2 separate regions of the Homo sapiens genome follow, and region 1 is linked to region 2. The links come from fine-mapping of genetic effects on gene expression. A gene starts in region 2. The other region holds a variant in brackets. All regions are shown on one strand. Distances are from middle to middle. Region 1 has its middle 5.6 kb from the start of COMMD5. Region 2 holds the start of ZNF251 (zinc finger protein 251).

What was found. PIP is the estimated chance that this variant, and not a neighbour inherited with it, causes the effect.
Region 1: its variant is the best candidate, but not a certain one, in a credible set for the expression of ZNF251 in whole blood (TOPMed, PIP 0.86).

The regions. Positions count from the first base shown.
Region 1 is chr8:144,857,180-144,860,083 of GRCh38, reverse strand. No RefSeq gene overlaps it. Among named protein-coding and RNA genes, the nearest start is that of COMMD5, 5.6 kb to the right of the region's middle. The variant G/A (reference allele first, on the strand shown) is at 1,681.
Region 2 is chr8:144,754,228-144,757,131 of GRCh38, reverse strand. It overlaps ZNF251 (zinc finger protein 251), which reads left to right and starts at 1,601. Exons shown (of 5, transcript NM_138367.2): 1 at 1,601-1,727; 2 at 2,329-2,436; 3 at 2,811-2,904. The coding sequence starts at 2,404. All of the region lies in intron 2 of LOC107986986 (a long non-coding RNA gene), which reads right to left.

The sequences.
Region 1 (2,904 bases), 100 kb before region 2:
AAGGCAGGTAGGTTCCCCTGTGGGAGTTGTTCTCCAGAACCGAAGGGCCGTAGACCTGTCAGCCACTGAGAAGGGGCGCACATGTGTGTATCTCTAAGAAGGAGGCTGTTTAAATGTTCACGAATACGGCACTGTTTGAGACACAGCCCGCAGGCTCCGAGACGGGTCTGCAGAAATCCAACATCAAGCCACTAACTCTTAGAGGCAGGGGTCATCCCTCCTAAAGTGGATGCCTTGGGTAACCTCTTCTTAGGGCCCCTAATTTTCTTCTTCCTAACAGTTGGCCTGTGTGTACTCACCTTCATATCCCACTTCACCTCCCAAAGGCTGAACTCCCTTGTCCAGGCAGCCACCCAGAAAGACACTGATACCATCCCACTCCGCCAAGTCCAGTATCAGCGCCGCCAGGAAAGCAACTCAGAAGTCAGACACCCACTGCTTCAAAACCCAAACCCTGATTACAGCACCACTATTCAGCAGGAAGCAGCCAGATAATCAACAACCACGCTCTTCCCTTTATATTAAAGTAGAAGGTGGCCAGGCGCGGTGGCTCACGCCTGTAATCCCAGCAGTTTGGGAGGCTGAGGCAGGCAGATCACTTGAGGTCAGGAGTTTGAGACCAGCCTGGCCAACATGGTGAAACCCCATCTCTACTGAAAATACAAAAATTAGCCGGGTGTGGTGGCGGCCACCTGTAGTCCCAGCTACTCAGGAGGCTGAGGCAAGAGAATCGCTTGAACCCGGGAGGCAGAGGCTGCAATGAGCCAAGATTGCACCACTGCATTCCAGCCTGGGCGACAGAGTGAGACTCTGTCTCGAAAAAATAAAAAAAGTATAAAGCAAGAATGTTAGTCCAACCTGCACAATTTTGTAAGTCCCCCACCATTTCGCAGACCTTGGTCAAAATGAAACATTCCACGGGGGTTTGGGTGGTGAGAAACAGCCTGCCTCTTATATTCTGCTGGGAGAAAGTGCAAAGAACACCACATTCTGCCGGAACAAGGGCCAGAACCACCTCATCCTAAGAACACATTATCAACATTTTCCCAGGAAGCAGGCCATGACCCCCTGCCCCGACCCCTCCCACTCAGGCCTATAAATTGCCCCAGCCTGTAAGCGGCAATGGGCTCTGGGACTAAGCTGGTCGCCCATCTCCACAGGTTTTTGCAATATACCTGTGTTGCTGTTAAGCCACCCTCTGTCTCTGTGTGTGTGTCATTCTTTAACCCTCATCTTCCCTTCAAAACCCAACATCACCCAGGCTGGAGTGCAGTGGTGCAATCTCAGGTCACTGCAACCTCCACCTCCTAGGCTCAAGCAATCCTCCCACCTCAGCCTCCCAAGTAGCTGGGACTAGAGGCACGTGCCACCATGCCCGGCTAATTTTTTTGTATTTTTTGTAGACACAGGGTTTTGCCATGTTGCCCAGGCTGGTGTCAAACTCCTGGACTCAAGCCATCCTCCTGCCTCAGCCTCCCAAAGTGCTGGGATTTCAGGTGTGAGCCACCACACCCAGCCAGTTCTAATTCTTACCAGTTCAGAGAACCCTGGTTCCCATGGGTCTTTCTTCCTGAAAAGAAACTCAGAAGGAAGTGGTTAGTTGGATTAGCTACAGTCTTCATCACTGGAACTGGTCTCAGGGCTGAAATGTTCTCTTCTTTTCTGTTCATTACTCATCCT[G/A]AAATTACCTCAACTGTCAACACAGTGGACCTCGGTGGGTCCCTGGGTTTGAGAAGCTCAAATGTCCTTGTAGCAACTGTAGCTTATTCAGTGGGATCCTTGCTGTGTGCTCCTGGGGAACTGGACCTCCAACCCTACAAAGTCTAGAACCATGTAGAGAGGAAACACAAAATCTCCCAGTAGGTTATGGGAGAGTCTGGGTGAATTGGGCCACTCCTGCTTCAAATCTTAGTTTCCCAGACTCATGTGTTCTTTCTGTTGGGAACACAGCACCATAAAAAGTATCCAAATTAATGCATGGCATCCCAAAGGATGGTGCCATCCTTTCAGAGCAGAGCATCCAAGCTGCTGCTTCAGCTGAGCCTCTAGAAGGCCAGTGCAGAGTTGCATGAGGCTGGCTGCTACAATACAGGTGGGTCCCATTAGGATGCCGCTGTGTGAGGATTCATGCCTCTGAATGAAGCAACCTAAGCCCCAGACAATGGTGTGGGCTGAGGCTCTGTAGGAAAGGCCAGCTGGTACCTGAAATAGGCATCCATCTGTGTGAGAAAAAACTGCCAGCCTTTCCAGGATAGAAAGGGCATGGCATCAACTCTGTTATGGACAATTTGGACATCCAGAGGTGGCAGCTGCCAGACAGGCCCTGGTAAGGGAGTTCATGCTCCTCCTGCCTCGGCCTCCCAATGTGCTGGGATTACAGACACGAGTCACTGCGCCTGGCAGCGTGAGACCCAGGGTGAAGGAGGTCTTCCATATGGAGTCTTTATTTTTGTCACCAGGGTCACCCCTTTCATGTTCCAGAGTGGCTGACAGTGAGGACTGGTGTCCACTGGTGAGTTATTTTGTCTGCTTGGTTGTTCCGTGCCTCATGTGTGCTGGATGCCTTGGTGGGCACTGATATGTGCGAACACCTCCCCACTCTGTGCCCCTCCTTTGTGTTCACCACTGCCTCAGCCCAGACCTGGTCTGCAGGCTCCTTTTCCTTCTGGCCCCCCCAGAAGGTGGGGACACAAGGCCACTGCCCAGAAGTCTGGGCATTCTCACCTCAGGCCACTTCTGCTTGCAGATGGTGGGGTGACCGGGCATGCCGCCTGCAGTTCTGCCCACTGGGAAGGTTTTCCTTCCCACCCTTGAAAGTGGCAGTAACACAGCTGCTGTGTGCCATGCAGTGAGCCCATCCATCTGCAAATCACACTCCTTCAGCCACACAGGAACCCTCTGCAG
Region 2 (2,904 bases):
GTCCTTATATCTGGAAACCTTAAGTTTGTGAACTTAAACACCCATATATACAATTGAGATCATATCATAAATATAATTTTGTATTCTATTTTTCACATTCTATTTCATAAGCATTACCCTCTGCCAATACTTTTTTTTCAAATACCACACATAATGGCTGCATAATGTTCAACTGAGTGTACAGAAGACAATAGATTTATCTATTTCTGTGCTGCAAAAAGCATAATTATCTTCCATTTCCCCTTCTATGAATAACTAGCTATTTTCCAAATTCTCCCCATTATTTAAAAAAAACCACACACACAACAAACTCTGGAATGGGCACCCTTCTCTTTGTCATTTTTGTTATTTCCATAGGATAGATTCCTAGATTAATTGAAGTGTTTAAGGCTCTTTATGTACAGCTTAATTCATTTTCAACATTGTACTAAACACGCTTCCTCAAGCATAGCAGTGCGTAATTCTCCACAATCTCCCCAGCACTGATATTAATAATGTAAGGCATCTTCTTAATCATGTGTGACTTTGCATGGTGCTTTAGACTTCTAGACATTCTCCATCCTCGTTGATCGTCTCAAGTTCAGATATAAAATTTCTGCCTTGATTCTAACACAGTGTACAGGGCCTACACTATATTCTGGGTGACAAGATGGCTTGGCTTTCCTTTCCTTCTCCCCCTGCTCCTAAGCTGGTCTCCTCACCTTTATCAAGTGCTATTTTTTCAACCATGCTTTATTGTGTAGGGGCCAAAGGGAAAGTTCCTCTTTGCCCTCTGAAGGTTCACTGAAAGCCAACTCATAAAAGGCAGATTTTTGGAGAAAAGGCAAATAAATGGATTATTTATTTATTTATTATTTATTTTTGAGATGGAGTCTCGCTCTGTCACCCAGGCTGGAGTGCAGTGGCGCGATCTCGGCTCACTGCAACCTCCGCCTCCCGGGTTCAAGCGATTCTCCCGCCTCAGCCTCCGGAGTAGCTGGGACTACAGACGCCCGCCACCACGCCCGGCCTTTACCGCCAGTTTTCACACAGAAAAGCGGGGGGAACATCAGAGTCGTGTTTTTAGGTTTTGTGGCTGGCTTTGGGGGTCTGGCCTCTGGGACTCGCCTTGGGTAAAAGGGATTCACTCTGTGAGGAGCCTCGCGGGAGAAAAGAACTGAGACTGGAGGCCTGGGAAGGTCAGAGGGAAACTGCCTCCCAGGCCTTCATTTTGGGGCGTTGTGTTCTGAGCCCCGATAATTGTAACATCTTCATAAGCGACTTTCTGGTGGTTATGGTGAATCGGGACACACGATGTATGGTGACCGACGGGGGAGCCGGGAGCCCAGCGGGGTTAGGGTTCAGGTGAGGGTTTAGGGTCGGGGCGAGCGCGGCGCGGCCCGGATGCGCAGCGTCACCGCGCCAGACCCTCCGCTCAGCTGCCGTGGGCTCTCCCCCTCCCCGACCATAGACGGCGCAGGCCTCCAGTCATCCCAGAGCGGCCCCGGAAGAATCCGGGCGGAACCGCGGCTGGCTTCCGGTTCCCGGCGTTCTCGGAGGCGTACTGAGGCCCCGCAGGGGGCGGGGAAGCCTGCGTGTGCGCAGCTCGGCCCGGCCCGCCCTCTTCATCCTAGCCCGCCCCCTCCCCGGCTCTGGACCCGGTTCTGTGGGAGGGTCCGTTCCGGGCTCGGTGCGACTGCGCAGCTCCTCGGCGCTTCCTCGGTGGCTTCCCCGGGTCGAGCAAACAGGTGGGGCAGTGTCGGACCAGGAAGGAGCGCCAAGCGGGCAGGCAGGCGGGGAGGGCGCGGGGAGGGCGCGGGGAGGCGGCGGCCAGTCCAGGAGGAGCCTGTTCTGGGTGCCGCGGGAGCCACCGACGGGCTGCAGAGGCCGGGAGGAGGCGACCGCGGCGCGGCCCTAGAAGGCTGGACTGAGGACCACAGCTGGCTTCCGGCCTCTCCCCGGAGCCTGGGGCCTTCGGCAGCATCCCCGCGGCCTCCTTCTCACGTCCTCAGCCTTGGTGAGGCTGCACCCTCACGTGGCTCTTTGCCCCAGGTTGGCCAGGCAGGTAGAACGGCCCTGCACCCCATTTCCAGGGCCTTCAGCAGGTCTGGACCACGGGAACTGCCAGCTTTCACCCCTTAGCCGGGCGTCCCTGGATCCCCCCGGGCTCTGGCTCTGGCCGTTCTGGGATTTCAGGAGTCACTGAGCAGTAGGGCACGTCGGCCCGTGCTGCATAGTGACCTGCCTCCCGCGACCCAGGAGGCCACAGCAGCAATCAGCTTCTGCCTCCTGGCCATCCTTCCACACCCCTGGTTGAATGGGGCTGAGCCTGAGTTCTCCCCACTGAAGGTAAGTTCGGGGAGACTTCAGGCCAGGGCAGTCTCCTGTCTTCTCTTGGAAACCACAGCAGCCCATGCACACAGAATGGCAGCCACATTCCAGCTTCCAGGGCACCAGGTGAGTTAACCCTCCTTCCTGCCCACCTCTTCATCTTCATCCCCATCCCAGTCAGAAGCTACTCTCCTCTGGAGCCGTGAGCCCGGCAACTGGTAAGGCCAGCCAGGGGCTCATAGCAACCGTGAGGAAAGGGTTCTGAGAGGTAGACTCGCCCTCCTGCAGGGAGAGGGGCTCTGAGCTCAGCTGGGTCCCCGTGTAGCTGAAGTTGGCTGGTCCTCAGCGCTCTCAGCTGCCCCATCAGGGACCTGCTGATACACAGTTCATACTGACCACAGCAGGGCCCTGGGTAGTGGGGCCCCACCAGGTCAGGGCCCTTTTAGTGCAGGCTGCTGCCCCGTGGGCATGGCCTGGGCAGCGGCGATGTTTTGTTGCAGGAGATGCCGCTGACCTTCCAGGATGTGGCCGTGTACTTCTCTCAGGCGGAGGGGCGGCAGCTGGGCCCCCAGCAGCGGGCGCTCTACCGGGATG